6 separate regions of the Homo sapiens genome follow, and regions 2, 3, 4, 5 and 6 are each linked to region 1. Evidence: fine-mapped expression QTL. A gene starts in region 1. Each other region holds a variant in brackets. All regions are shown on one strand. Distances are between the middles of the regions.

Region 1 (5,070 bases):
ATGGGGTGGGGGGAAGGCATTTTCTAGGTTTCATTATTTCTGTTAAAATGTACACAATTCTTGAAATAAAAATCTGGACAATCCAGTGGAAACAGCAAATAAAATCTCTAAACTATAAAAAAGTCTCAAACACTTTAATTGTGACCTTGTGAAATACGACTCATATAATCTGGCACCAAGGATACCCATATGTAAAATGGAAAGAAATTACTCTTAAAATGTCCTTAGGGTCAACTTACCCGGGGCTGGCGGGCCAATCATGTTGATCGAATAAACTACGTAAGTTTATGGATCACTTTCACTCTGTTTCGGTATACAGCACGCTAGAGGGAGGGGGAGTTAAATTCATCCCTGCTCTTGGATCTCCAACCTCGGCAGCAGTGGAACGCTCCTCTCCAGCATCCTGAACATGTTCAAGTTTTCCCCAAACTAAGTTCCTGTCCACTCTGCCCCTGTCCTCCTAAAAGCTGGAGCAAGCTATCTCTACCTGCCCAGGTGTGCATCCTAACTCAGGCTACCTGGCTCCAGCCCGGCCTCCGCAGTGACCCCTAAAGGTCACAAAAGCTCGGCTGCTGCGGTCAGTGGGATCTTTTCAGCTGCTCTTTTGTTCAGCACTGCTGATGGCTCCCTCCTCCTTTAAACTCCATCCTCTTGGTTTCGACACATTCTAGTGTCCTGGTTTCTCCTACCAGCCCCCTCTCAGTCTCCTTTGTGGCTCTTCTCCCATCCTGAAGCTTGTCCTCACCCTCCACTCCCCTCTACACGTTACCGTGTCCCTTCTCCGGTGGCTCTCTGTGCCTTAGCCAGGACAATCTTTCAGCTCCTATACGTCATCATCGCCTACCACTAAGGGTCTGTGCATTCTGTTTCTTCTGCCTGGAGCCGCACACGGCTGGCTGCCCCGGAACCTCACTTTTTCTCTGGCTAATTTCCAGAGAAATTCTCCACAGTTCAACTCACACCCTCAGCATCTGACACCACTCCCACAGCCGCATCCTACAAGTTCCTGGAACCCGTGCCTTAGCCTTTGTCCCAACTGTGGTCAAACAATTGTGCATCTGGTGCCTGTCTCCCCTGCTGGGGCATCAACTCCCTCAACGCCAAGATCATGCCTGGCCCAGCACCAGTCACACCCAGCAGCACCTTGCTGGCCTCTGAACCGATGTGGACTGAATAAATCCCATCCATCACCATTTCCACCACATTTCAAAGTAACTGATGTGCACCTCCAGCAGCCTCCCTCCTGCGCTGCGGAACTCTACCAGCTCCACAGATGCACACCTACAGCCACGCTACAGCTCCCGGCTAGAGCCCGCGCTAGGGCCCCGCTGTGCCTCTCCCTCCCCTCCCGGCAGCAGGGCCTCCCCCGCGAATCTGAGCTTCTCGCGGATTCCTTCCTTGCGCTGTTTTGGTCAACAGCCTCAGCATCTGCACAGACGCCCGCAGGAGCAGCCGAGCCCTCGCCCGCCTCGACTGCCCGTTTCGAAGCCGCCCTGGGAAGCCCCCGGCCTGGGTTCCCGCTCGGCCCCGGCCCCTGCCCCAAGGCCCCTACAGTTCCTCCCGGCCCCCGCCCTCCGCTCACTCCCGGTCGTCCCTCGCGGCTCCGGGTCAAACCCGCGCTCCCCGCGGTCCCGCGCCTCCGACGCCACCGCTCCGGCTCGCGGGCCCGCGGCGCGTTCCTCCCTCGGATCCACGCGGAACGCCCCGCGCAGCTCGCTGGGCTCGGCCTCCCACATCCAGCGCGCCGCCTGCGCCGACCTTGGGGCCCGACCCCGACCCCGACCCCGACGGGCAGAGGCGACGCCGGGCCACCTACCATCTCCCCCGCGCCGCCCGCTTCTGGCCGGCCCCGGCCTTCTGCGCAGGCGCGGCGGCGGCTCCGCCCTCGTCCTCGGACGGCCGCGGCCCTCGGCTCCGGGGCAGTGCCGGGAGCCGGCCGCGGGGACTCCCACTCCCGGCATGCTCAGCGCCGCCCGGGGGCCCACGGGAGCTCGCGCCCCACAGCCCCTGCGCGTCCAGCCCTCTGCGAGGGCCTTGGCTCGCCCCTGCGGGGTCCAACGCCAGCCTGCGGCTGCCAGGCCCCACGCCGGCCAGGAAGTGCTCGCCGCCCGCGGCCGACGGGACCCGCCCACGCCCCGCCTCTTAAAGGGGGCAGTGACTGCGGCTGGGCGGGAGTCCGGGTCGGCTTGGCTGAGCGGGGGCGGTGCTGGGCAGGGCGGCGGCCGCTCCCTCCCGGACTCCCGGCCTCCCGGCCTCCCTGGTCCCGCCTGGGAAGGGATGCAAGGAAGCCCTCCGGCGCTGCGCTCCGAGGCGGGAGACAGCGTCCCCCTCCGCCCCTCGGGTCCTGGCGCCTCAGAGCCCGGCCCAGGCCGCGGAACGGTGATGCTCGGGCCGGACGGGCGGGCGCGGATCCCTGCGTCCCGGTGAGCACCAGGCCCGTCCATCCGGGGCTCTTTCCCGGGGTCCCCTTCCTTCCCTCCCTCCCTGGGGCTCCCCTCCCCTCTCTCCCTCCCCGGGGCTCACCTTCCCTTCTTCCCTTCCCAAGGGTCCCCTTCCTTCCTTCCCTCCCTCCCTGGGGCTCCCCTCTCTCCCTCCCCGGGGCTCCCATTCCCTTCTTCCCTTCCCAGGGGTCCCCTTCCTTCCTTCCCTCCCTCCCTGGGGCTCCCCTCCTCTCTCTCCCTCCCTGGGGCTCACCTCCCCTCTCTCTCTCCTCGGGGCTCCCCTTTTCTTGCAGGTATTGTCTCCCGGGGTCGGGTGGTCTGTGTGGCCTGGGGTCCCGCTCCTCCAGGCCTTGCCTAGGCGCTCTTCGCTGAGGCCCACGTTCTAACCTGGAATGGAACCTGCGTTCCCACCCTGGCCGCCCGGGTGGACTCGGGGCCTCCAGGGCCGGCCGCAGAGATGCAGCCCTGTCCCTGGCCCCCCTCCTGTGACTCCTAACGGCTCCTCACGGTGTCCATGACCCAGGGTGTGGACGCCTGCGCGGGGGAAGCAAGACCGCTGCGTATCGGGTCCCTATTCACTGCCTGTTTTTCTGATTATTCTGTCTTCCAAATTTATCTTATTTACCGGCTTTTTCAAAAGGAGTGTCTTAATGATTGGATTACTTGTGAAATATTTGTAGTTTTTTTCTCCTACAGGCTTGACTTAAATATTCTAAAGCTTTTTTGTGGTTGTTGAGACAGAGTTTTGCTGTCGCCCAGGCTGGAGTGCAGTGGCTGGTCAAGGCTCAAGCGATTCTCCCGCCTCAGCCTCCCCAGGAGCTGGGGCCACAGGGAGCATCACGCCCGGCTAATTATTTCATTTTTAATAGAGACAGGGTCTTGCTGTGTTGCCCAGGATGATCTCCAACTCCTGACCTCAAGCAGTTCGCCCACCTCAGCCTCCCAGAGCGCTGGGAATACAGATAATTGTGTCGTAATACAGCAGTGGCATTAACCACCGCACCTGGTCTTAGGTAGAATTTGAAAACCTTTTTATTTTGAGATGGTTGTAGATCACATGAAGTTGTAAGGAGTAATACAGAGAAATCCTACAGAGTGCCTTTGCCCTGTTTTCTCCAATGGTAGCACCTTGCAAAACCATAGTATATGTGGGGAATTTTCTTTGATCAAATCCCCTGACCTGTTGAGATTGCACCAACTATACATGCACTAGTGAGTGTGAATCTACACCTGTGTGTCTTCTCAATAAAATTGAGATTTTTTTTCACTCAGCCTTGAGATACATCCGCATTGTTATGTGTATCAATTGCTCAAGATGCAGAAATTCTAAGAATTCATTATTTAAAAAGTAATCCCAGCACTTTGGGAGGCTGAGGTGGGTGGATCACCTGAGGTCAGGAGTTTGAGACCAGCCTGGCCAACATGGCAAAACACCGTCTCTACTAAAAATACAAAAATTAGCTGGGTGTGGTGGCGAGCGCCTGTAATTCCAGCTACTTGGGAGGCTGAGGCAGGAGAATTGCTTGAACCCGGGAGGCAAAGGTTGCAGTGAGCTGAGATCACAACACTGCACTCCAGCCTGGGTGACAAGAGCAAAACTCCGTCTCAAACAGCAACAACAACAAAAAAAACACATTACAGGAATCCAAAGTGTCTTTTTAATAACTAGAACAGCTAAAGATGTTTACTAATTTGCTCAAAAAACATGCTACAATTTAGTAGTCAGTAGGATTTTGGAGGCAAGTTTGAAGATAAAATGAAATGAGTTTGAATAAAGGTGATTTGTATTTTAAGGGTCCATAAATAATTTCAGTTTCATGTTATGAGTATGTTTCAGTGGGAAATTTTAGTATAACTACAACTAAAATCCTCAAAGGTTTCTCATAAAAATTATAGCTCCCTTAGAGGGACAACTAATTTTAGGAACCTGATTGAGGAAGGAACCAGAAATGAACATAGAGGTGTCATTCACACATGAGCTGTGTTGAAACTTATTTTTCTGAAGCATAAAATCCATCAAAGAATCACTTTTTGGGATCTTTTGGGGAAACTGGGAAGTGTAAGCAAAGCATCTCAGATTTCTGTCTTGGTTCTGGAAAATACTAAAAGTTCACTTGTGAAGTAGCTGTTGATTTATTTAGCTCCGTTGGACCAACCGAGAGAAGCTTAGCAGTTGAGTGAGTCATTAAAATAACAGCTCAGCTATATGGCTAGGCATGACTAAGTGATTGCCTCATTGTTTGTTTTTAAGGTGGTAAATGTGTACTTAAAGTTGTACACGTGTACTTAAAGTTGTATTGAAACTAACATAAAATTGAGTGATTGGAACAGCACATTATCATTTATCCTATCTTGTTAGGAAGTTACCTGTTCTAGGTAAGTGAATTCTCTGTGGAGTGTGCTTCTCCTTTTGGGAGTCAGTCTCCAAGAATGTTTTGAATTGAACACTTTCTAACCAGAATATAGTCTTTTCTTGGTGACTTTTGCTTGTAATTCTGATCAGTACTGTTGTCTAACACAGTACTGTCTTCAGGACCTGCTGGGGTGCAGACAGTCGCTGAGCCTTCACCGAGTCATCTGGCCTCCAGGCTTTTTTAGTTCTCCTGTTTGTTTTGCATAAGGTTTGTCT
Region 2 (5,070 bases), 100 kb after region 1:
AACTGTCCTCGAAACATCTCAGGCCCTCCGCCTCAGGGCCTAGGGAGGCTGTCCTCTGGTTCCTGAACAGGGTGGCTCTGACCCGCAGATCTGTGGGCTCCCGTTGCAGGTACCGGTGGTGCTCGGAACCGTCCTCAGATTCAGTCTTGGAAGGTGCTTTGGCACCTCCTTAGAGTCGGACAGACCCTTGTCACGAGTCAGTCCAGCTGCAGGGGCTCAAGTTGTTCTAGAGCTGGGCTGGCAGGGCCCTTGGGTGAGGGAGTGTGGCTTGGCACTGGCATCTCAGCCTGCGGCCAAGTTTCCTGCCTGCCCAGGCAGCATGACCCTTGGTGGGATCAGGCAGAGCTCTGCCTCTCCCCTCCCTACCTCGGAACATCCTGTCGTCACACACGATTGTCCAGTGTCATGAAAGTTTGTAAGTGGGAAGGCAGGCAGATGATGAATTCATCAAACATTACAGGGATGCTTTTGCTGTAAGACTTCGGGATGTAGCCCGTGTGGGGCTGTTTCTGGGGTCCCGTTCGCCTCTCCAAGCTCCTCCTGCCATTGGTAAAGATGCAGGGCATCTGAACTCGCTCTTGGGCTGTGCGGGCACTTGGACCTGGTCAGCTCCCTGTGCAGAGAACGTGGCTGTGGACGTCACTGCCCGGTATTCACGTGCCTTGGTTGTGAAAGCCGTTCTGTGGTGCCTGTTTGTGTCCTGTGAGTTTATGGGGAAATCCTGAAATTGAGAGCTGGGGACCAAGAGAACTGTGTGCGTCCCACCATGGAGGCGTTTGAGTGATGCTGTCACGAGGCTCTGCTAATGCCAAGAGGGGACCAATGAGCTCCTCTAAGGGTCTACCACCAGGTGTCCTTTTACAGACCTGGATGGTGAAGTTCAGGCCTGAAGAGGTGAACCTGATGCAGCAACAAACTGCTGTTTCCTTCAGTGCTTGAAGGAGTGAGTTCTGGGAACAGGATTCAGCGACTCAGGCCTTCTTTTGTCCTCATAAAGAAACAACTTTACATTTGAGGTTAAGAAGGTTGTCAGTTTAGCCCCCTCAGGTTTAAGTGTTGAAGAAATCTATGATGACGTGCTTGTTTTTACAAGAGTCTTTTCATATTTCAGGATTTTTTTTTTCTACATAGGATGAGGTTAGAGAAACTCTGAAGGGATATTAAAAATTAGAAAATTATAGGTTGGGCCGGGCGCAGTGGCTCACGCCTGTAATCCCAGCACTTTGGGAGGCCGAGGCAGGTGGATCACAAGGTCAGGAGATTGAGACCATCCTGGCTAAGAGGGTGAAACCCCTTCTCCACTAAAAATACAAAAAATTAGCCAGGCATGGTGGTGGGCGCCTGTAGTCCCAGCTACTGGGGAGGCTGAGTTAGGAGAATGGCGTGAACTCGGGAGGCGGAGCTTGCAGTGAGCAGAGATCACGCCACTGCACTCCAGCCTGGGCGACAGAGCGAGACTCTGTCTCAAAAAAAAAAAAAAAAAAAAAGAAAAAGAAAATTATAGGTTAATTAAAAGTTTTGCCCCTGCTGGGCACGGTGGCTCATGCCTGTAATCCCGGAGGCCAAGGCGGGTGGATCACCTGAGGTCAGGAGTTCGAGACCAGTCTGGCCAACATGGCAAAACCCTGTCTCTACTAAACATACAGAAATTAGCTGGGCGTGGTGGCGGGCGCCTGTAATCCCAGCTACTCTCGAGGCTGAGAAGGAGAATCGCTTGAACCCGGGAGGCGGAGGTTGCAGTGAGCCGAGATCACGCCATTGCACTCCAGCCTGGGTGACAAGAGCAAGACTTCATCTCAAAAAAAAAAAAAAAGAAAAAAGTTTTGCCCCTAAAACATGCTTTAAAAGAGGTATTATAGGAACATCTGGTATAAAATTCAAAGAATAAAAAAGGACATCTTTTTTCTTACATAATCAGCTCTTTGTTAGCTCTTTACTTTTGGTATTTGGAAGAAATCTCTGGAGTTCGTTGTGTAAGAATTGGAAACCTCACCTTTGGTGCACAGCTCGATTTGCAGTAGAAGTATCAGGTGCTCTTTAGGGGATGTTAAAAACTTTTCACTCTTGGTATTTACATTAAAAAATACTTTGTTGTAGAACAATTAGAAAATCCAGATTTGCAGTTGATATTTAGCTTGACTTACAGTGTGGCTTTCTGCTGTTTGTCATAAGAGACTAGATTTGTCAAGTTTTGCTTAGAGAGGAGGACTGGTAGCAGCAGGTGGCTTAGACTACGTGTGGGGATGGATCTGCGAGGGGAAGGGCAGATGTCAGCGTTGGCTGAATTAGAGGCTGAATTAGGTGACCCCTCATCCCCCAGGTGTCTTACTCAGATGATTCTGGTTGTTCGGGTACTGGCCATGCACTGCTCTCTGTATCTTTGTGTGTAGCCCAAGCCTGGAAAAGCATCCGCCCTTTGTACCTTTTTCCCGACTGGCTGAGATTCCCGCAGCATCCCGACTCCGCTTCAGGGCTCCTGTGAGGACAGGGACTATGGCTTTTAAGTTGTCGCACAGGTCATGGGCACTATTCACATGTGCTGCAGGTAATTTTGAGACTCAAGGATGAAGAGTTATATCTGCCTCTTCCCGTTAGTCTTTTATGTGAATC[CTGTT/C]TGTTTGTTTGTTTCGAGACGGAGTTTCGTTCTTGTTGCCCAGGCTGGAGTGCAATGGCACGATCTTGGCTCACCACAACCTCTGTCTCCCGGGTTCAAGCGATTCTCTGACCTCAGCCTCCCAAGTAGCTGGGATTACAGGCATGCGCCACCATACCCTGCTAATTTTTTGTATTTTTAGTAGAGACGGGGTTTCTTCATGTTGCTCAGGCTGGTCTTGAACTCCCGACCTCAGGTGATCCGCCCGCCTTGGCCTCCCAGAGTGCTGGGATTCCAGGCGTGAGCCACCGCGCCTGGCCATGAATCCTGTTTTTCTATGGTCCAGTTTCTAAGGGATTCTGGTCTGATGAATGAAAACCTTGTGTGTCCCCTGTGGCTTTGGGATACAGTATCTTTTAACACAGGTGCTTGCCCTGTGCACCCTGGTCTTCTGTTCATTAACATCGCGTCACTGGGGTCTGAGGAAAAGAGACAGTGTGATCCGCTCCAGTGAATGGGGAAGCAGGAGAGGGTCAGAAACCTGAATGGGTCAGCCCAGAATCCAGCATTGCCAACACATCCCTGGCCCTCCCCTCCTGCCCAGGTGACAGGTGTGGCATATGCTGGTCCTCAGCCCTGCCCAGGAGACAGTTGTGGTGTCTGTGGGTCTTCAGCCCTGCCCAGGTGACAGGTGTGGTGTGTGCTGGTCTTCAGCTGTGCCCAAGAGACAGTTGTGGTGTGCACGGGTCCTCAGCCCTGCCCAGGTGACAGGTGTGCTGTGTGCTGGTCCTCAGCCCTGCCCAGGTGACAGGCGTGCTGTGTGCTGGTTCTCAGCCCTGCCCAGGTGACAGGTGTGCTGTGCACGCGTCCTCAGCTATACACAGGTGTCAGGCGTGATGCGTGTGGGTCCTCAGCCCTGCCCAGGTGACAGGTGTGGTGTGCGCGGGTCCTCAGCCCTGCCCAGGTGACAGGTGTGCTGTGTGTGGGTCCTCAGCCCTGCCCAGGTGACAGGTGTGCTGTGTGTGGGTCCTCACCCTGCCCAGGTGACAGGTGTGCTGTGTGCTGATCCTCAGCCCTGTCCAGGTGACAGGTGTGCTGTGCACGCGTCCTCAGCTATACACAGGTGTCAGGCGTGATGCGTGTGGGTCCTCAGCCCTGTCCAGGTGACAGGTGTGGTGTGCGCAGGTCCTCAGCCCTGCCCAGGTGACAGGTGTGCTGTGTGTGGGTCCTCACCCTGCCCAGGTGACAGGTGTGTGTGCGGGTCCTCAGCCCTGCCCAGGTGACAGGTGTGCTGTGTGCTGATCCTCAGCCCTGTCCAGGTGACAGGTGTGGTGTGCGCGGGTCCTCAGCCGTGCCCAGGTGACAGGTGTGCTGTGTGTGGGTCCTCACCCTGCCCAGGTGACAGGTGTGGTGTGTGCGGGTCCTCAGCCGTGCCCAGGTGACAGGTGTGCTGTGTGTGGGTCCTCACCCTGCCCAGGTGACAGTTGTGCTGTGTGCAGGTCCTCACCCACCCAGGTGACAGGTGTGGTGTACACGGGTCCTCAGCTGTGCCCAGGTGACAGGTGTGGTGTACGTGGGTCCTCAGCCCTGCCCAGGTGATAGGTGTGGTGTGCGCGGGTCCTCAGCCGTGCCCAGGTGACAGGTGTGCTGTGCACGCGTCCTCAGCTATACACAGGTGTCAGGCGTGATGCGTGTGGGTCCTCAGCCCTGCCCAGGTGACAGGTGTGCTGTGTGCTGATCCTCAGCCCTGTCCAGGTGACAGGTGTGGTGTGTGCGGGTCCTCAGCCGTGCCCAGGTGACAGGTGTGCTGTGTGTGGGTCCTCACCCTGCCCAGGTGACAGTTGTGCTGTGTGTGGGTCCTCACCCTGCCCAGGTGACAGTTGTGCTGTGTGCAGGTCCTCACCCACCCAGGTGACAGGTGTGGTGTACACGGGTCCTCAGCCGTGCCCAGGTGACAGGTGTGGTGTACGTGGGTCCTCAGCCCTGCCCAGGTGATAGGTGTGGTGTGCGCGGGTCCTCAGCCGTGCCCAGGTGACAGGTGTGCTGTGTGCAGGTCCTCACCCAGCCAGGTGACAGGTGTGGTGTACACGGGTCCTCAGCCGTGCCCAGGTGACAGGTGTGGTGTACGTGGGTCCTCAGCCCTGTCCAGGTGGCAGGTGTCCTGTGTGTGGGTCCTCACCCTGCCCAGGTGACAGGTGTGCTGTGCACGCGTCCTCAGCTATACACAGGTGTCAGGCGTGATGCGTGTGGGTCCTCAGCCCTGCCCAGGTGACAGGTGTGCTGTGTGCTGATCCTCAGCCCTGCCCAGGTGACAGGTGTGCTGTGTGCTGATCCTCAGCCCTGTCCAGGTGACAGGTATGGTGTGCGCGGGTCCTCAGCCCTGCCCAGGTGACAGGTGTGCTGTGTGTGGGTCCTCTGCCCTGCCCAGGTGATAGGTGTGGTGTGCATGAGTCCTCAGCCCTGCCCAGGTGACAGGT
Region 3 (5,070 bases), 63 kb after region 1:
TTATGGAAGTGAGCTTCCAACCTGAATGCTTGAGGCTGAGGGGGTGTTGGCGGCCTCGATAACAACCTGAACAACAGCTGGCAGCAGGGAGTGCCTGGGCCATGTGTCCCCAGAGCACTGACCTGGGTGGTCCAGTCTCCTGTCTCGAGCTCCAGCCATGAGCTTACACGGCCTTCACACTCCCCCCAAAACCAGCCATTCTCAACCAGCGAGGCCTCTGTGTCTGCAAGGCCAGTTTTATTTCTTCTTTGATATTTCTGCTTCTGTGTCCTTTCCCCGCTGCCCAAAAGCTGCCTCCCGTCTGCCCATGCAGAGCTGTATTACCCAACAACACCCAGCTCGACTCGGACAGCACCCAGCTCAACTCGGACAGGCCCCGGGAAAGTAAGAGCTTGGGGGGAGACCCACAGGCCCACACGGCAGCACTGCGAGGCTAGACCGTAAACATGGGTCAATTGAATATTTATAAACAGGATACTTAAAGGTTCTTGGGATATTGAACAATGAAAGAAATTGTACTATTTGAAAATTCTATTTCACATGAAAATGTAAAATTTCAGCATATCAGAAAGCATCGTGAACAAATTTGAAAGCCAAGCAAAACTGGGAAAAATATTTGGATAAAAAAATCCTAACACTGGTACATAATACATAATAGGCAGTTCATATGTATTTTTTGTATGAATGAAACTTACAATACTTTTATTAATGTCATGGGAACTTATAAAAACTGCATGGAGATATTTTAAAGAAAAAATTTTGAAACCCATTTTGGTTTTCTTTATAATTCCTTCAGTTCAGCCCATTCCTGTAACCACGTGCTCATCCCCACAGGACTAGGCAGTGCCCACCCTTGGTGCCCTGCAGTGCACCGCAAGGACATGGCCGTGGCCTGGAGCCGCGTCCCTGAGTTCCTGGTGGGCCGCGTGAGTCTCCCTGTTCCTCCCTGCTGCCTTCTCCTCTCCTGGCTTCCCCACCCCATACTTCCCTGATGATATGGTTTGGCTGTGTCCCCACCCAAATCTCATTTTGAATTGTAATCGTCATGGGTTGACCGAGGGAGGTGATTGGATCATGGGGGCAGATGTCCCCCAGGCTGTTCTCATGATAGTGAGTTCTCACAAGGTCTGACGGTTTTAAAAGTGGCAGTTTGTTCTCGCGCTCTCGCTTCTCCATCCTGCTGCCTTGTGAATAAGGATGTGTCTGCTTCCCCTTCTGCCGTGATTGTGTTTCCTGAGGTCTCCCCAGCCATGGAGAACTGCAAGTCAATTAAACCTGTTTCCTTTATAAATTACCCAGTCTTGGGGAAGGCGTGAGAACAGACAAACATGCCTGAGTCCCCGAGTCTGTGATGCTCCTCATTCTTCAGCACGGCCTGTGCCCGGGACGGGGCGCTCCTCCAGTGCAGAGCTCACACCATGACTGTGGTGTCCTTCAAATAACACTGCTGCTGCCAGCTTCCCAGGGACTCTTCTCCTGTGTGATTCCAGTGCCTTGCCTATGTCCCTGCTAATCTTCTGGAGTTTAGGGGTCCGTGCGAAGCCCACCCCACCTGAGTCCTTTCATCCTGGGTGCCTTCACCTCCGTCCAGGACTCCGGGGTTGCAGCCACACATGCTCATGTCACCGTGAGGCCCAGCCCTCCAGGGCCTGAGATGTACAGATGCTATCCCCCTGGGCACCCAGTGTTTCCCCTTCCTCCCTGTCTGCCTTTTGCTCAATCTCTCAGCGCCCTCAGGAAGCCCTTTCACAGCTCAGCAGGGAAACCTCTGGGCTCCTCCCCCTCCAGCAAGTCACCTGGAAGCTCTCAGGCTGGCCATGGAAAGCTGAACCCACTGCCAGGGGACTGGACAGAGAGGCTGGTCTCATTTTCCAATCCCTTCCAGAAGGAAGGAGGATGCTTCTCCTGAGAGCAGCGACAGGTTTGTGTCCTGTGACCTCTGCCTTCCCTCGCCCGGGGGAGGGTGATGGGGCGTCTTTTTGGCTTTGGTTTAAGTAGCAAAAGAGATGGAGTGTTCAAAGGATTGAGGGGTCGGCCGAGGGTGGGGCTTCTCAGTGAGGGGCGGGTCCTCTGGGCGTCATGAGGGCCTGGGGAGAGGACCCTGACCCACTGCCAGGGAGCTGTGCCAGAGGTTCCCATGGGACATGGAAGGGGAACCGACATCCGTTTCTGCACTGGGGTGTGGACACCTGGCCCCACACCACCTAGGTTCCCCCACAGGGGCCTGAAGACTGGAGGTTCTCTCCAGAATGTTCTGGTTTGATTCTGAGAGCAGGAGAGACACCCATAAAAATGATTGGGGTTAAATTTCTGGCCAGGTAGATGGGAACTCACAGCCAAAATTTAATTAAGGAGAATAAACAATTGTGCCACGCCATGCATCCAAGTCCGGCAGGGCAAATCCACACCCGCTACTCACTGAGCTTCCCCTGGGCCGGAATGCTCCCCCTACATTTGCAAGAACAAAGCCTCCTTCCTGTAGAAAAGAAAACAAAAGTAAAATAAAAAAGAACAAAGCCATTGGGCTTGGGTTTCCTCTTTCCAATCAATCGATCGGTCATCGTCAACACTTTG[G/GT]TTTTTTGTTGTTGTTTGTTCGTTTTTTTGAGATGGGGTCTCGCTCAGTCACCCAGGCTGGAATGTGATGGTGCGATCTCGGCTCACTGCAACCTCCGCCTCCCGGGATCAAGCGATTCTCCTGCCTCAGCCTCCAAAGTAGCTGGGATTACAGGCTACCACCATCATACCCGGCTACTTTTTGTATTTTTGTAGAGACGGGGTTTCACCATGTTGGCCAGGCAGGTCTTGAACTCCTGACCTCAGGTGATCTGCCCGCCTCGGCCTCCCAAAGTGCTGGGATTACAGGCATGAGCCACCGTGCCTGGCGTCGTCAACGCTTTGAAAAGGTATGATGAAATCGGGCCACCTGTGATTTTTACCAGTTGAGCATGAAGAAGCGAACCCCTGAGCATGAGCTGGGCAAAAGTGAGTGGTGAAAACATGGTGAAGAGCTAGGGCTTTTCAGGAAAGAAGAGGAGACTCACTGGGCTCCCTAAAGTCATCAAGAATTTGGGCATCAGATTATCAGAAGTTAAAATTTATTTTCACCTATAATCCAGGGGGTTGGGACAGAGAGGTGTGGCTTCCTCCCAGAACTGTGACTTTACCTCATGAACTTCCACAAGGCAAGGGGCTGCAGGACTGTCCTCTAGACGCTCCGGGTGAGCCAAGACAGGAGACCTGACATCAGCTCACCTTGGGGAATGACACCCCCGGAGACAACCCACCCTTTCACAGAACTTCCAGTGAGCATTTTAGCATCTTAACTCTTCCATGTGAATGAACAAGGCTTGCTGCTCCCCAGGCTCATGCCTCTGAAGTCCCAGTGCTTTTGGAGGCTCAGGCAGATGTATCGCTTGAGCCCAGGAGTTTGAGACCAGGCTGGGCAACATGATGAGACCTTGTTTCTATGAAAAACACAAAAATTAGGTGGGTGTGGTGGTGCTCAGGTAGTCTCAGCTACTCAGGAGGTGGGAGGATGGCCTGAGCCCGGAAAATCGAGGCTACAGTGAGCCATCATCATGCCACCGCACTCCAACCTGAGCAACAGAGTGAGACCTGTCTCAAAAAAGAATGTATATATATATATATATATATATATATGGATATGAGTGAACAACCTCCACCTAGGGCTTTCCTAAAGGTAAGACCAAAGCAGAAGAATGAAAACAGAGAATTCAGGAAGCAGAAAAAAATGTCATGGAAAATGTTTTAAAAACCTATCATTAGGCCAGGCGCAGTGACTCACGCCTAGCACATTGGGAGGCTGAGGTGGGCGGATTGCCTGAGCTCAGGAGTTCAAGACCAGCCTGGGCCACATGGTGAAACCCTGTCTCTACTAAAACTACAAAAAAAAAAAAAAAAAGCCAGGTGTGTGGCCCGGCATAGTGGCACCCAACTGTAGTCCCAGCTACTCGGGAGGCTGAGGCATGAGAATCGCTTGAACCTGGGAGACAGAGGTTGCAGTGAGCGAGATCACACCACTGCACTCCAGCCTGGGCGACAAAGCGAGAGTCTGTCTCCAAGAAAAAAGAACAATAAATAAATAAAATAAAAACTTACCATTAATACACTGTCAGGGATAGTACATCCATAAAATAAGAACAGAATATCATGAAAAATGATCAAGAAAAAAATCTCTTTGAAATGAAAAAAAAAAAATTACCAAGATAAAAACGCTCAGGGGAGATGGAAGAGACGGTGGAACCTAGGAGCTTGGCGAATGCTCCTGAGACCTGGGTTCTTTCCCAGGTGGCTTCTGGCAGCTCTGTCCCTGGTGTCTTTGGTTCTCTTTTTCTGGACCCTCTTTTGGCTGGATGATGGACTGCCTGGTTTGATCCTCTAATTTGCTTACATTTTCCCTGCCATTTTCCATTTCTTTGTCTCAGTCATATGGGCACCACAGATACCCACACAGTAAATGAAAAAAGTCCCCTACAAATCACATCATCACAAAATTTCAGAACACTGAATAAAGTTCTAAATAGCTTTCAGAAAGAAACTAAATCAGCTCTCAGGCAAAGGGACAGAGATAAAAAGGCCTTGGGCTTCTCAACAACACGAAAGCAGTAGAGTGAAGCTGTTGAGATTCCCAAGGAAAATGAATTCCACCTAGGATCCAATACCTGGAGAATGAGCCGTGAAGAGCATAATAAAGATGTCTTCAGAGTCATGAGCCCCTCCTCTGGAAGCTGCTGTAGAAAATGTTTCAAAACCAAGAAAGATGGCTTGGGGTCCAGCACACAGAGCACCACCCTGAGGGGATTCCAAGCAGAGTTCTGGGACAAGAGCTGCCCACCTGGGGAGAGAGCAGCTGGTCAGCTTGGAGGAAGGGAGCTCTCCAGGAAACAAACCACTGGTCCTCTACCTACACAGGTGTGTGTGTGTGCAGGTGTGTGTGCACAGGTATGTGTAGGTGTGTGGGTGTACAGGTGTGTGTACAGGTGTGTGTGTACAGTTGTGCATGGGTGGACGTGCGTGCACAGGTGAGTATGTGCAGATGTGTGTAGGTGT
Region 4 (5,070 bases), 71 kb after region 1:
CAGTGCACTCCAGCCTGGGAGACAGAGCGAGACTCCATCTCAAAAAGAAAAAAAAAAGGGTGGGGTGAAGGGGGGCATCACTGTTTCAAATTTAAAGGTTGATAAAGGGGGTGATTTATCACTGAAGTCTCTCCGCTGCTTCAGTGGTCTGGGGTGAGACGTGCCTACGAGCCAATGTGTCCATAAGCCGATGTGTCCCAGCAGGTGTCACCTGCACCCCGTGGGAAAAGAGCACATTTCTGGGGGGCTTTCTCTCTAAGCCCATGCTCGCTTCAGGTGTCAGTGTTGGCTTGCGCCCCCTGAGCACACGCAGGTCTGGACGGGGTCGCGGGTCTGGACAGGGTCGTGGGTCTGGATGGGGTCGCAGGTCTGGATGGGGTCACGGGTCTGGACGGGGTCGCAGGTCTGGACGGGGTCGCAGGTCTGGACGGGGTCGCACAGCTTTGGACCGGGTCGAGGGTCTGGACGGGGTCGCGGGTCTGGACGGGGTCACGGGTCTGGACGGGGTCGCAGGTCTGGACGGGGTCGCAGGTCTGGACGGGGTCGCACAGCTTTGGACCGGGTCGAGGGTCTGGATGGGGTCACGGGTCTGGACGGGGTCGCAGGTCTGGACGGGGTCGCAGGTCTGGATGGGGTCGCACAGCTTTGGACCGGGTCGCGGGTCTGGACGGGGTCGCGGGTCTGGACGGGGTTGCACAGGTCTGGATGGGGTCGCACAGGTCTGGACGGGGTCGCGAAGGTCTGGACAGGGTCGTGGGTCTGGACAGGGTCGCAGGTCTGGACGGGGTTGCGCAGGTTTTGAGATGGGCATTTCCTCCCCCAGCATCTCAGGGTGTTCTTGGCAGCCCCTACCCCAGGACAAACCTAGTTTCCTGTGTTCCTGGTGTTTGTTTTACAAAAGCCTAAGCAGCAGGAACATTTGCAGACTCTGCTGAGAGGGCGAAAGGGGAGGCAGGCATGCAATGTAGGCAGAAGCTGGGAGGGGCTGGACAAAGCTTCTCAGACTTCAGAGTTGGGACCGGAGGGCAAGAGAAGGGCCCAGCTGCCAGGACGTGGTAGCTTCACAGAGGGCAGGGCCTCAGGACACTGGCCACTGCTGCCACATCCCGGGCACAGGGAGACAGCCCAAGGACAGACAGACGGGTCCCACGGGCCTGTGGGTGGGTGGCATACAGAAAGTGAGCCAGCTGCAGAAGCCAGAGAGCACTTCCTACCCAGCCGAACGGCGGCCAAGACCCCGCTGCTCACCAAGACGTGGCCTTGTGAGTCGGTCCTGGACGCCGGGGCTGACTAGCATGACGGTTTGCAAGGGAGGAAATGGTGGCCCTGGAGGTCCAGTTGTTCACTCAAGGCTGCTCAACAGGACAGTGACATTCACAGAGAAAGCCCTGTAATAGGGCTGCCCACCTTTCACACACTGAAAGCTGACTTGAGAGGCTGTTTTCTTCACTGTATTGATGGACAGCTTTGAGTTGGTGTTGGTCATGGCCATCTTCCCTCAACACTTTAATTGAAATGTGAAGTTACAGAATAAGAGGTCAAAGGCACCCTGGGGACTGCATGGGCACCTCATCCATGGGTAAGGCTCTGGGCCGGGGTTCACATCCTGAAAACCTGCGTTCAGGAGTCTGTTTCTCACTCGAGGGGACTTTGGTGTCTCCAGAGATGTTCACTGCGCTTTGTTCTCAGAAGGGCTGCTCTGAATCTCACGAAGGGAGTGAAGGGTCAAGGCATGTGAATGGCAGTGAGAGCCCCCTACGTGGACAGGGCCTTCTGTCCACAGAGTGGCAGAGAAGAGTTTGTTCCTGGAAGAGCTCCACCCCTGGAGCTGCAAGGCTGGGGCCCAGGCGCGCTACAGCTACAAGCTTCATCACAGCTCCCTCTGCTTAGGCTGTCACTGGCTCACGGTCACACAACCAGGAAGGAGTGTCAAGCACCCACCACGTAGCGCCCACTCCACGTCCCTCCTATCCTGCCCTCGGTTTCAGAGGCTCAGTTGCAGACCACAGAATCCCCACCAGCAGGTGGAAGCAGATTGAGTTTTACTCAGAGATAAAGACCGATGGTCTCCCCATCTGGGCTGAGAGCCGGTGGACGTCACTGCCAGGGATGATGCGGCAGGAGAGGTGCCCAAGCACGAGCAACACTGGCACTGGGCCCCAGGAGCTTCTCTACAGTCCACACAATGTCTAAAGGCTTTCCCGAAGGCCCAGGCCACTCC[C/T]GTGTGGCTGCACCTCTCGTTGGCCAATTCTGCCCCCCAGCTTCATGCAGATAAAGCAGTGTGTGGAACCCAGGTCGCAGGTGAAGGCCCAGCTGTGAGGGCCTCTGGCAAAGGGTGATCATACTGCCTGGGCTTTGTGGTGCAGAGGGGATCTGAGGACAGGCAGACTGGGTTTGGATTGATTCGATATGCCAGCCTGCCTGGAACTGTTAGAAGAAAAACTTTGGACTTCGTTCTACATTCAAAACAAGGTGGATGAGGGGGAAACATCCAGGGCCCCAGTGTGGTGTTATGCAGAATCCATGTGGTGCGGTTCTACTCTGTTTGTGGAGAGAGCATGTGTGTGTTTGCAGAGGGCTTGTAGGGCTACTCTGCCTCCCTGCCCGAGCTGACCCCAGGACAAGTAATCTGGGGAGTGGTCCCAGAGACACTGCCAGTGAGGCTGGAGAGGGCCCCGGTGTGGCATAGGTTCCCCGGGTGTGGGGGCTGAGCCTCTTCCCCTCCCGGCAGTCCTGGTGCCAGGCTCCACAAGGCAAAGATGCTCCGCGTGCCTGTGGGTGGTCCCGCAATGAGCTCTGTGGCTGCCAGATGCACCTCCCCTCCAAGGCCTCTGCTGCCTCCCAGTGGCTCACTTTGTTTGTGGCACTGCAAACCGAATCCTGTTAAAAAGCATAGTTAGAAGGCAGCACCATGCTCCTCACTCTTGAAAGCCGGCGGGTGGACCAAGTCTCTACCTTGAAATCCCAGTCACCGTGCTCAAAATTAACAAGTTGTCCAGTGACCTGATTCTGGGATTGCCACGCTGAGAGGTCGCGTTGTCTTCAAGCAAATACAAGAAAGCAAGTCTCAAGGAAAGCAGGTTTTGTTTCTAGAACATCAGAGGGACCCAAGCATGTACCACATTAGGCTTTTTAAACCCACATTCTACCCAGGGCTAGGTCAGCGAAGAAGGGCTTTCAATACTGAGGAAGCTCTCGGCTCCTCATTAGTCACTGAGATGACATTGTAACCATGGGAAGTCTGGGCCTTACCTCACTGCGTCCATCCCTGCCCAGTTACACCCCACTCCCACACTGCAAGCGGGGGCTTTAAACTGTAAATCTGTCAATGTCATTCCCTGAGATGACATAGGGGCCAACCTTGGGTCGTGTGAGCAACAAGATGCACAATGGCCGTGCTGATTGCAAACTGTAGAATAAAATAAATGCATGCAAGCTCACACTGCTGTCGTCACTGACCATGTCAACACGCAAACGGGGAAGAAGGACCCACTGCTCTTCCCTGCAGGAGAACCTCGATGGATAAATGCCAGAGGAAAGGGGGAAACAGAAAATCACCACGAGGCAAAGTCCACGGAACTGATTGCCGCTGACAAGACCCCCATGGATGCCAAAATCAGAGAAGTTCCAGGAGAATCAGGATTTGGTCTCCCAGTGTCTCCAGGACGATTATCCCCTACAGAGGAAGGACGGCAATTTGACCAGGAGACTCGGCAGACACCACCTGGACCTGTAGTTGGACACATCAGCTCAGGAGCCACTGAGAGACAGCCTTACCTCCACAGGATGCTTGCCAAATGGGCTTGACTTCATACAGTCCTGAGAACACGAGACAGCAAAATCCATGCCCAGGCCCCAGGACAAGGATGGTTAGGGCTGACACAGGGTCTGGCTCTGTCACCCAGGCTGGAGTGCAGTGGTACAATCATGACTCACTGCAGCCTCCAGCTCCTGGGCTCAAGCGATCCTCCCCACTCAAGTAGCTGGGACCACAGGCGCACACCACCACACCCGGGTAATTTGATTTTATTTTTTGGAGAGATGAGACCTCATTGTGTTGCCCAGGCTGGTCTTGAACTCCTGGGCTCAAGTGATCCTCCTGCCTTGCTCTCCCAAAATTGTGGGATTACAGGCATGGGCCACGGTGTCACACTGGGTGCTGGGTTTAATATCTGTGTCGTGGCCATGCTGGACACGGATATGAGGGAAGCCAGGGAGGATTATGTGGGAACTCTGGGTACTATTTCTGCAACTTTTTAGTAAGTCTCAAATTCATTCAAAACAAAAAGTTAAAAACAACAACAACAAAGAGCCATCCACTTGCCCCAAACTCTTCCTCAGCTCCCACTCACTCTGAAGATAAATTTCAGAGTCCTCCATCAAACTTAAAGAACTTCTCGCCAATTCCCTCCGGTCCACACGACCCCAGCTGTCTCTCTCCACTCATCCCTGAGATCTTAAATCCACGACACTTTCTTGGATCAACTTTCCCGACAACAACATTGCGAGGTCTCTCTCTGTGGCATTTTTGTAGCTCCTAACACCTCCTCCGCAGCACTTACCACGTCTGCAGTTAACTCAGAGCCTGAGAGATCCACCCCTCAGATCATCCGCAAAGACCCACAAGTGCTTCCCTCGGCCCCACAGACCCTTTCCACAGACCGAGAGACACTTCCCACAGACCCCCCCAACATATCCACAGACCCGAAGCCGTCCCCTCAGACCCACAGACCCTTCCCACAGACTCGGAGACCTTCCCCTCAGACCCATAACCTCCCCACCCCACAGACCTTCCCCACAGACCCACGGACTATCCCTACCTTCAGACCCTCCCCTCAGACCCGCAGACCCTCCCCAACCCACAGCCACTTCCCATAGATCCACAGACCCTCCCCTCCCTTCAAACCCTCCTCTTCCTTCAGATGCTCCCCTCAAACTATCCTCAGGCCCTCCCTTCATACCCACAGACCTTTCTGTCAGACCCTCCTCTCAGACCCACGGACCCTCCCGTCAGACCTGCAGCCGCTCCCCTCGAGCCTCAGACCATCCCCTCAGATGAAGGGACCCTCC
Region 5 (5,070 bases), 40 kb after region 1:
GACATTGTCTTAATCAGAACACTTTTAAAGCTTTTTTTTCCCTTTTTTCCAATTCAAAAAATTAATGCAGTACAGGTATTGATCCCACCGAAATTGTTCTAATTCAGTCATGACACTTCATGTTTACAAAGAGTTGATGACTTGGAAAAATACTCTGTAATGCTGTTAAACTTAAGAAACAGAATCGGGCCGGGTGCAGCGGCTCACGCTGTCATCCCAGCGCTTTGGGAGGCTGAGGCAGGAAGATGGCTTGAGAGCCGGGCGCAGCGGCTTCCGCCTGTCATCCTAGCGCTTTGGGAGGCTGAGGGGGGCGGATCACGAGGTCAGGAGATCGAGACCATCCTGGCTAACACGGTGAAACCCCGTCTCTACTAAAAATACAAAAAATTAGCCAGGCATGGTGGCACGTGCCTGTATTCCCAGCTACTCGGGAGGCTGAGGCAGGAGAATCACTTGAACCCAGGAGGCAGAGGTTGCAGTGAGCTGAGATCACGACACTGCACTCCAGCTTGGGCGACAGAGCAAGACTCTATCTCAAAAAAAAAAAACAAAAGAAACAGAAACAGAGTCAGAATTGTAGACCACGTTCCTCCTGACGCTAACACAGAGCTCCCATTTGACCCAGCTGTTCGCTCCTCGGTATTTACCCGCAAGAAACAAAAACACACATCCACATTCAGACTGATACACGGTGGTGATGGGGGTACAACAGTGTGAATCCACCTGATACCACAGAGTTACACACTCAGAAATGGTTAACATGGTACATTTTATTGTATGAGAGTTTCACCACAATGAAAAACTTGTACCTGAATGTTCAAGCAGCATTATTCGTATAGTTAAAAAGTATTAAGAACTCAAATGTCAATTAGATAACAGGTAGATATACAAAACATACTATATTCAGCAAAGGAATATTATTCAGCCATAATATAGAATGAACATTGATTCATCCTATAGCACAGATGAAGCACGATGCTTCTGAAAGAACCGGACAAAAAGTCCACACGCTGTGTGATTCCATTCATACCAACGTCCAGACTAGGCCAGTCCGTACAGACAGGATGAATTACTGGTTGCCGGAGGGTGGGGAGGTTGGGGGAGATGGGGAGGAAGTGCTGATGGGTACAGGGTTTCTTTTTGGGATGATGAAAGTATTCTAACATGGATTGTGGTAATAGTTGTGTAATTTTGTGAATATGCTGGAAACCATTGAATTGTATACTTTAAATGGGTAAGTTGTATGGTAAGTGAATTATATATCATAGCTGTTAAAAATATATACGATATTTTAATTAGACATAGAAGAACATGAATAGAGACTAGAAATATATATATGTATATATAACAAGGTGTTAATGATTTTCTACTAGTAGACTGGTAGATTTGTACTAAGTTTTTTCTACTATATATACTTTTCTGTAATTTAGGAAAACCTCCCTTTCAATTTTAATAACGAGGGAAAATTTATATTTAAAATATCAAAGAAATAAAATTAGTTGCAACATAATAGACTCTGCTTTCTTATTAAGCTTTATTCAGAATTAACCTTGATCATTCCTAGAGGAAAGAACTCTTTCCCTCAAAATATTTCACAGGTAAAGAACAGAACACAGAAGGCTGTAATAAAGCAAAACAGATGTTTATGCCCATATTAAAGACAGAGGCTTATGTTTCTTATTTTATAAAGGTCTCCTATACCTTAATAAGAAAAATATGAATAACTGAGTTTGAAAACAGGTCAGCAGCAAAGCAGCTATTAGACTTGAGTAAAGTAGGAAACACCCACCCTCACACCAAAGAAGGGTGATGGCACCACCCGCCCATCAGACTGGGCACCATTAGAAGCTGGGTGGTGCCCAGGTTGGGAAGTGGGGTACCTTGGGCATCATTGTTGGGATGGGAATTGGAGCAACTTCCTGGCGGCCCACCAGACAGCACCTGTCATAGTGGGAGGCACCCGGCTCCCTTAGTGAGCACCCACTGCCACCATCAGTGGACCCACAGGCTCCTTGGTCACCGCAGCGCCCAAGAACCAGGATGGCCGTGGAGTCAGTGTGAGAACCGGGACAGCCCTTGCATCTGGCTGAGCAAATGATGGTGCGTCCCGCCAGGGAGCCCTTCCTCACCTGTCCGCTGGCCAGACATGCTGATGGGAAGCTTGTCCACTCACCTGTCCGCGGGCCAGACGTGCTGATGGGAAGCTTGTCCACTCACCTGTCCGCAGGTCAGATGTGCTGATGGGAAGCTTGTCCAAACACGCTGAGACAGTCAGAACAGCCGTGGACACGGCGCCCCGTATGTGCAGATCAAGAGCAGCACACGCGTGGACCTGCAGGTGGCACGGCGCCCTGTACATACAGATCAAGAGCAGCATGCGTGTGGACCTGCAGGTGACACGGCGCCCCGTACGTGCAGATCAAGAGCAGCACACGCGTGGACCTGCAGGTGGCACGGCACCCCGTACATGCAGATCAAGAGCAGCACACGCGTGTGGACCTGCAGGTGGCACGGCGCCCCGTACGTGCAGATCAAGAGCAGCACGCGTGTGGACCTGCAGGTGACACGGCGCCCCGTACATGCAGATCAAGAGCAGCACGCACGTGGACCTGCCGGTGGCACGGCGGCAAGCCGGAATCCTGAGAAACTTGTCACGGTGATTGTCTTTCAAAGAGGTCAGAGTTGAGCGCACTGTGGCTTCTGATTGGCATCTTTCTGAGCCCTCATCACTGTGCATTTAATGGACACTGTGGGAGTCTTCTGGGAATTAGACCTAAATCCAAACCCTGGGGATGGTGGCTGTGGAGAGCTTGTGTAGCCGTTAGGGGCTTGGTCCTGGAGC[C/A]AGATACCTGAGTTGTCCCCAGCTCTCTGCACTGGGCGTGTGGCCTGGAGCAGATCACCTGGTCTCTGCCCCTGTTCTCATCTGTGACGTAGCAGTGGGGATCGTACAGCTCTTACCAGGCTGCCATAATAGGTGGCACACAGTGCTCTGCACACAGTGCTCTAGGGGCTCAGGATGCAAGGGTGAGCTCAGCAGAGGACGTTCCCCATGTGGGGAGCTGCTGTTGTGTTTTGGAGAGGCAATGAATGAATGATGCACAAATGAGTGGTAGACAAGACATCCGCAGCAGGGAACCGCCCTGCGAATGATTCAAACAGGAAGAGGAGCTGGTGAGCAGCCGTGAGCCCCCAGACGCACAGGCTCTACCTTTGGAGATGTGGCTGGAATTTGAGGAATGCAGCTAAGCCTGTTGGGAGAAGAGTCTAGGGTAGGGACCTCCCAGGCAAGGGGCTCTGTGGCCTGTGTGGGTGGGCTGGGGCAGTGGAAGGGCATGGCAGGGCAGAGAAGCCTGGGTTCCATCCCAGCGTCCAGGAGCTGATTGAGGGTCCTGATGAGCTGTCTGGGCCTCTGTGTGGAGAGCAGATGGATCAGGAGGAGGCCACTGGAGCTGTGGGGGAAGGGGTGGCAGCCCAGGCAGGGACCACGGTGCTGGGCCCAGGGCCAGACGTGGGCCTGGCAGTGTGGCAAAGCTGTCAGGAGTGCGGCAGGCCTGGTCTGCTTGGCCGTGAGTCTGTCTCCGTTCCTGCCAGGGCTGCAGAAAGGGGCCTCTCTCTGAGTCGCGGACTTGGGCCCTGCAGTGAGCTCTGAAGGACGCTGCCTCCCTCCTTCTAAGTCGCAGACGTGGGCCCTGCAGCGAGCTCTGAAGGACGCTGCCTCCCTCCTGAAGTCGCAGACGTGGGCCCTGCAGCGAGCTCTGAAGGACGCTGCCTCCCTCCTACTGAAGTCGCAGACGTGGGCCCTGCAGCGAGCTCTGAAGGACGCTGCCTCCCTCCTGAAGTCGCAGACGTGGGCCCTGCAGCGAGCTCTGAAGGACGCTGCCTCCCTCCTGAAGTCGCAGACGTGGGCCCTGCAGCGAGCTCTGAAGGACGCTGCCTCCCTCCTGAAGTCGCAGACGTGGGCCCTGCAGCGAGCTCTGAAGGACGCTGCCTCCCTCCTACTGAAGTCGCAGACGTGGGCCCTGCAGCGAGCTCTGAAGGACGCTGCCTCCCTCCTGAAGTTGCAGACGTGGGCCCTGCAGCGAGCTCTGAATGATGCTCCTTCACAGCTGCTTCTGTGGCCGTTGTTGATCCCTTCATTCCATCCCTTCATTCCATCCCTTCATTCCATCCCTCTCTGCTTCAAGCCCAGCTCTGCTGTGGTTCCCCGAAGGAATCATGGCAGTTTGAGATTTGCGTTTCCAGCACTTCTGCTTTAAGCCAGACTGCAGAGGCTGACGCCCTTGGGAATCATAGGTTTCCTCCACCGAGGAAACTTTCACCAGAATTGTGGCCTGAGTGGTGGAAGGCTAAGGTTAAATATAGGTATATTTGTGAAGACGGCAGATAGTGGATGTCCGCTGGCTGAGATGGTGATCTATTCTGAGATCTGGGTAGTATATTCTAAACAGAACATAGCAAAGGATCACTTTCTCTGTGTCTGAATCACAGACACAGACCTCAGAGCTGGCTGCCTCGGGAGTGCCTTGCTGACGGTCGCTGGAGTTCGTCCATCAGGCGACTGCGGTGGGGCACGGAGAGCAACCGCTGCCTGGCGGAGACTTTGATGTGCGGCTGAGGCCTGGCGAGGAATTTTATCGTCAGGCATCAGCTGAGATAGGAACGCTGTCAGTCGAGAATTTTCACATTCTAGAATACGCATTCACCCCAGAGTATTGACTGCAAACCAATGCAGCTTCCACCTTTGGCTCAACACAACTTAATTTCTGAGATGAGTATGATTCATAGGTGTTTTTGTATTTGAAAATAAAGATGTGTATGATTCAGGTAATTTATTTTGTAGCATGTTAAAGAAAAAAACTGAAAGATTATTTTATTGAGTTTTAGAGAACTGTGTTTTGGAAGTGAAATCACGTCTCTTTTTTCTTTCCCAGCATTGTCGTGGAAGTTCTCCGAATCCTGGTTTTGATTGGTCAGATTCTTTTTTCACTAGCGGCGGTTTTTCTTTTATGTCTTGTTATAAAGAAGTATCTCATTGGACCCTATTATCGGAAGCTGCACATGGAAAGCAAG
Region 6 (5,070 bases), 46 kb after region 1:
GGAAAGTGGGCTTCTGCTTACCGAGACGACAGTCTTTACATGAGAGTGGCGGGAGATGCTCCTGGACCCCCATAGAGTCTCAGTAGTCCTGACAGCGCACCTGGGCACCGTCACCATTGTCCCAACAGTGCACCTGTGCACCGTCACTGTTCAGCCCGGCAGGTGCTCTTCCTGCTGTTTATCCCAGAGAAATGAAGCCGTGTTCACACAGTAGCCTGTACACAGGTGTTTATAGCAGCTTTATTCGTATTAGCCATAAACAGTCCAAAGGTACTTCAGTGGGTAAATAAATGTTCAACAAACTGAGCTATGTCCATACCACGGAACGCCACCCAGCAGTAAAACCACCGGCACACACCTCCGAGAACTGCGCAGAGTGGGCAGGCAGCCCCCAAAGGCTGCGTACTGTGTGGTTCTTTTTATGTCACATTTATGAGGCGAGAAGATTCTGAAGTTGAGGAAAGGCTCGTGGTTCCCAGGAATTGAGGATGGGCAGTCTGGGGAGGGGCTGGGGATGGCACTCGCTGTCTTCGCTGTGTCTGTATCGGCACCTGAGTGGGGGTCTGGGGAGGGGATGGGGATGGCATTCGCTGTGTTTGCTGTGTCTATATCGGCACCTGAGTCGGGGTCTGGGGAGGGACTGGGGATGGATGGCACTCGCTGTCTTTGCTGTGTCCGTATCAGCACCTGAGTGGGATCTTGTGCTGTAATTTGGCAAGATGTTACCATTGGGGAAACTAAAGGGTAATGAGGACTTTGTATTACTCTTAAAACTGCAGGTTAATATATAATTATCTCAAAATAAAAAGTTTCCGGCTGGGCGCGGTGGCTCACGCCTGTAATCGCAGCACTTTGGGAGGCCGAGGTGGGTAGATCTTCTGAGGTCAGGAGTTCGAGACCAGCTTGGCCAACATGGTGAAACCCCGTCTCTACCAAAAATACAAAAATTACCTGGGCATGGTGGCGCCTGCCTGCAGTCCCAGACACTTGGGAGGCTGAGGCAAGAGAATCACTTGAACCCAGGAGGCAGAGGCAGAGTTGATAGAGCAAGACTGCCTCAAAAAAAAAAAAGTTTCCATTTAAAAAAAGTAAATTAACAAAAATTGTTTCTTATATATAATTGCCTGCTAATGTTTTGTAAACCTGGGAGGAAATTATGATTTGCTTCTGGTTGTAGTGATTTTAACTATTTCAAGAGTGTGACTTATTTAAATTCTTACATTGTTTTATCCATTCCAGAGTATTTTTCTCTTTGAAAATAACTCCCAGCAGAATTGTCTTATCTGGACAACTTCCGTGTTGCCCTCCCAGTGGCTTCTTCCATTACAGTGACTCTGCCCGGCTCTCAGGTTTTCTCGCTCTCTGGGCAGCCCTCACCGTGCACCTGCTGCCAGCTGCTTGGGGTGCTGGGCCTTCTGCACATCTGCACCCGATGCCACAATGTATTCTTTCCACTGTTCAGTCTTAGGATTCGTTTCCATTTAGAGCTGCTGCCCATTCTCGTGTTTCTGGAAGGTGCTTTCACTGCTGATGAGCCTAGTAGAGTGCCTGTGGAGGTAGGGTTGCAGGGCCACAGTAAACAGGAGCTCAGCCGTAGCCATGACGTGGGTTTCCCCAAAGTCGCCATGCCAGCCCGTCCTGCTGCTGTGCCGTGAGCACGCCGTGCCCCACAGCCTCCTTGCACTTGCTCCAGGAGTGGAGCATCTCAGGGCTCTGATGGGGGCTCCAGCGTCCACTTCCCGATGGCTGGTCCCTCAAGCCCTTTCCAAAGCTCAGTGGCACCTGGGTGTTGTCCTGGCGGTGTTCCTATTAAAGCCTCCAGGTCGTTATTCTGTAGGGTGAGGATTCTCTTCTCATTTGTAGGAATTATTTTTTATATGCCGGCAGATTTTTTTGTCCTTCTTAAAAATTTATTTACTGAGATGAAATTCACATAAAATTCGCCATTTTAATCATTTGAAAGTCAGCCTTCAAAATGTTTTGCCACCATCACCACTACCCAATTATATCCACCTCCCCAAAGGAATCCCCATGGCGCTCAGTTCTCCCCCCAGCTCCTCGAGGCCATGGAGCCACTTCCTGGCCCCGTGGGCCGCTGCTTCTGGCCGTGTCGCGTGGCGGCTTCCGTGTCTGGCTTCCACTTAGCACCACGTCCTCCAGGCCTGGCCGCGTCGCCGTGCGCACCAGCACTTCGCCCCTTTTTATGGCTGAAAAACATTCCATTCCAGCATGTCAGATATGTTTTTGCAAATGTCTTGCAGTTTGTGACTCGCCTTTTCACTCTCTTAACGGTGTCTTTTGATGAACAGAAGTTCTTAATTTCAGCATCATCGCTTATGAATTGTTTTCTTCGTGGCTATCTTCTGTGTTCTGTGTGAAAGATCCGCCTGCCCCTGGGTCGTGAAGATGCTCTTTACTGTTGTCAGTGAGCGTTCTGCTGTGCTTTTCTCATTAGATCTTCAGTCCACCCAGAGGTGAGCTTCGGTTGTGTTGGAAGTGAGGGAGTGGATGAGGATTCATTCATTCAC[A/G]TGCGTTTCTGAATGCCATGCGTTGAAAAGACCTCCTTCCCCCCTTCTATAGCATCACCCTGTCAAAAACCAAGTAGCCGTGTGTGTGTGCGTGCATGTGCATGTGTGTGTTCTTTGTGCATGGCATGTGTACCTGTGTGCATGCATGTGTGTGCTTTGTGGTGTGTACATGTATGCTTTGTGGTGTGTGTACATGTGTGTGCTTTGTGGCATGTGTACATGTGTGGGGTATGCTTTATGTGATGTGTGTACATGTGCATGCATTCGTTTGCCTTGTGTGGAATGTTACATGTGCATGTATGTGTTTGTGCATGCATGTGTGTGCTTTGGTGTGGCATGTGTACATGCATGAATGTGTACTTTATGTGGTGTGTGGTTTGTGTACGTGTGTGTGGCATGTGTGCATGCATACATATGTGCTTTGTGTGGTGTGTGTGTGGTATGTGTTCGTGTGTGTCTGCTTTGTGTGTGGTGTGTGTACCCGTGGCACATGTGCGTGTGTGTGTGTGTGCACATGCCCCTCTGACTCTGCCCACCTGCCCTCGGCTGCACCGCAGCTTGATCTCCGTGTTTGGGTCCAGCTTTGTTCTGTGCTAGGGTCGTCTTGGCTCTATTCGTGCTCTTTCCAAATTCCACTCGAGTTTTTAGATTCAGCTGGTCAGTTTCACACACATGAGTCTCTTGGCGCTCCTGTGCGTCTGTTGGCCAGGGGAGGGAGCATCCGCCGCTCCGCCGTGCTGAGCCCTTGGCGCTGTCATCTGAGTCTTCCGTCTTTCGTGGGTCTCTGTGTCTTGCAGTGTCAGGTGCAGGCCTTCTTTTGGGTTGAATCCTCAGGATGTGATGTTTTTGTTGCCATTATAAATCGTAGTTCTTTACAAGTTTCTTTTCTTTTCGTCTGATGCTGCTATCGTCTACAGTTTTGTTTTCTCAAGATAAAAATCATCTTTCAGGTTGGCCGGTGTCAGCCGTGCGTCATCCGGAAGGCTGCCATAAGCCTGCGTTTCGCAGAGCTGCGCTGAGGCTCCCGTGTCGCGGCCGTCCGGCCGGCGCGCTGATGTGGCTGCAAACCTGGGTATCAGATCAGCCGCCGTGGACACGCCGATGCTTCTCGCTGGCTTCGTGCCCTCCCGGGGCTGTTGCTTGTCGTCCTGTCGCTTTCTCTCTGCTTTGAGGCTGGTAGTGGGAATGCGTTTCTAACACTCCCACCGGGCTATTCTGATTCAAGGTCAAGAAAATGTATCACAAATATTTAAAACAGTTGGAAAATATTCTCATTCAAAAATTTCAGCGCAATCTGTATGGATATTTGTTTCAAATATTTTTAAACAATTTTTTTCTCCCAGTAAGGTTAATTCAACTAATAGCAGCCTCCACATGTCACCTCTCAGACCCAGCAGACGACCCAGGACCAGACACACACACGCTCTGTTTGTGCAGCTTCTGTGTTTTGTCGTGGTGGCTCTGCTGGGTCTCGGGGTGGCCTTGGGATGGGGGTGACCCTGGTGCACTGTGGGGTCTCATGTAAAGCTGCGTCCTGCCTCTCTCAGGTCACGGAGCTGCTGGACGTCTCCATGGAGCTGGGCTGTTTCCTGGCTGGAGCGCTCGTCTCCTCTCAGGGCCCCGTGGTCACCGAGGAGATCGCCACCTCCATCGAACCCATCCGCGACTTCCTGGCCATCGTTTTCTTCGCCTCCATAGGTAATCTTCCTTCTTTACATTATGATTGTGTTGGTTAAACGTATGCAGAGTGGTTCTGTAATATGTTTACGTGCATATATATTTATATAGCAAAAATGGTTATCTTAAAAATTAAGTGTATTCAGCATATTTCAATTTGGATTGCTAGTAGCCAGAAACTGTTTTCTGCTTTATAGAGCGCAGAGAAATCTTATTTTATTATACTGTTTCTTCTGTCCAGCTTTTCCTTTAGGCTCAGGGTACGTGTGTGGGTCTGTGACACGGGTAGTGAGTGTCACAGGGCTTTGGTGTACAGATGATTTTGCCACCCAGGTAATAAGCATAGGACCCTCGGCAGTGTTTTAATCCTCACCCTCCTCCTCCCAGCCTCCACCTTGCCCAGGCCCCAGTGTCTCTTGCTCCCGTCTTTGTGTCCACGTGTACTCGGTGTTGAGCTCCCACTTGTAAGTGAGAACATGTGGTATCTGGTGCTCTGTTCTGGTGTTAATTCCCTGAGGAGAACGGCCTCCAGCTGCATCCGTGTTGCTGCAAAGGACGTGATTTCATTCTGTTACGGTTGCGTAACATTCCCTGATGTATATGTACCACATTTTCTTTATCTGGTCCACGGTTGATGGACAGTGGGATCCTTGGAATTCACAATCTGGGCCGATTCTGTGTCTTTGCTGCTGTGAATGGCGCGGTGATGAACGTGTGAGTGCGTGTGTCTTTATGGCAGAAGGACGTATGTTCCTTTGGGCGCAAACTCAGCAGTGGGATTGCTGGGTCGAATGGTAATTCTGTTTGCAGTTATTTGAGAAATCTCCAGACTTTCCATCGCGGCTAAACTAATTTACTGTCCTAC

Which allele goes with the higher level. Positions count from the first base shown, and alleles are read on the strand shown. Sizes are in standard deviations (SD) of each study's normalised expression. Not every link is listed here.
As copies of G replace GT in region 3, the expression in cerebellar hemisphere of the gene that starts at base 2,171 in region 1 goes up (moderate effect, 0.63 SD a copy in GTEx).
As copies of T replace C in region 4, the expression in cerebellum of the gene that starts at base 2,171 in region 1 goes down (large effect, 1.0 SD a copy in GTEx).
In carriers of allele A in region 6, the expression in skeletal muscle of the gene that starts at base 2,171 in region 1 tends to be lower than with G alone (large effect, 0.83 SD a copy in GTEx).

The links.
Region 2: its variant is fine-mapped to the expression of SLC9D1 in cerebellar hemisphere (GTEx, PIP 0.94).
Region 3: its variant is fine-mapped to the expression of SLC9D1 in cerebellar hemisphere (GTEx, PIP above 0.99).
Region 4: its variant is fine-mapped to the expression of SLC9D1 in cerebellum (GTEx, PIP above 0.99).
Region 5: its variant is fine-mapped to the expression of SLC9D1 in whole blood (INTERVAL, PIP above 0.99).
Region 6: its variant is fine-mapped to the expression of SLC9D1 in skeletal muscle (GTEx, PIP above 0.99). The same link has a PIP of 0.9 or more in atrial appendage and left ventricle.

What each region holds. Positions count from the first base shown.
Region 1 is chr13:113,488,851-113,493,920 of GRCh38, forward strand. SLC9D1 (solute carrier family 9 member D1) reads left to right here and starts at 2,171. Exons shown (of 13, transcript NM_017905.6): 1 at 2,171-2,423. It overlaps DCUN1D2 (defective in cullin neddylation 1 domain containing 2), which reads right to left and starts at 1,861. Exons shown (of 7, transcript NM_001014283.2): 1 at 1,817-1,861. The coding sequence starts at 1,819. RefSeq lists an enhancer at 1,032-1,331 and a silencer at 1,562-2,481.
Region 2 is chr13:113,589,544-113,594,613 of GRCh38, forward strand. The region is part of intron 2 of TFDP1 (transcription factor Dp-1); the gene reads left to right. Among named protein-coding and RNA genes, the nearest start is that of TFDP1, 7.3 kb to the left of the region's middle. The variant CTGTT/C (reference allele first, on the strand shown) is at 2,611.
Region 3 is chr13:113,552,073-113,557,142 of GRCh38, forward strand. No RefSeq gene overlaps it. Among named protein-coding and RNA genes, the nearest start is that of TFDP1, 30 kb to the right of the region's middle. RefSeq lists an enhancer at 1-163. The variant G/GT (reference allele first, on the strand shown) is at 2,575.
Region 4 is chr13:113,559,774-113,564,843 of GRCh38, forward strand. No RefSeq gene overlaps it. Among named protein-coding and RNA genes, the nearest start is that of TFDP1, 22 kb to the right of the region's middle. The variant C/T (reference allele first, on the strand shown) is at 2,222.
Region 5 is chr13:113,529,114-113,534,183 of GRCh38, forward strand. SLC9D1 (solute carrier family 9 member D1) reads left to right here. Exons shown (of 13, transcript NM_017905.6): 9 at 4,932-5,070. Among named protein-coding and RNA genes, the nearest start is that of SLC9D1, 41 kb to the left of the region's middle. The variant C/A (reference allele first, on the strand shown) is at 2,843.
Region 6 is chr13:113,535,282-113,540,351 of GRCh38, forward strand. It overlaps SLC9D1 (solute carrier family 9 member D1), which reads left to right. Exons shown (of 13, transcript NM_017905.6): 10 at 4,076-4,226. Among named protein-coding and RNA genes, the nearest start is that of SLC9D1, 47 kb to the left of the region's middle. RefSeq lists a silencer at 3,169-3,357. The variant A/G (reference allele first, on the strand shown) is at 2,529.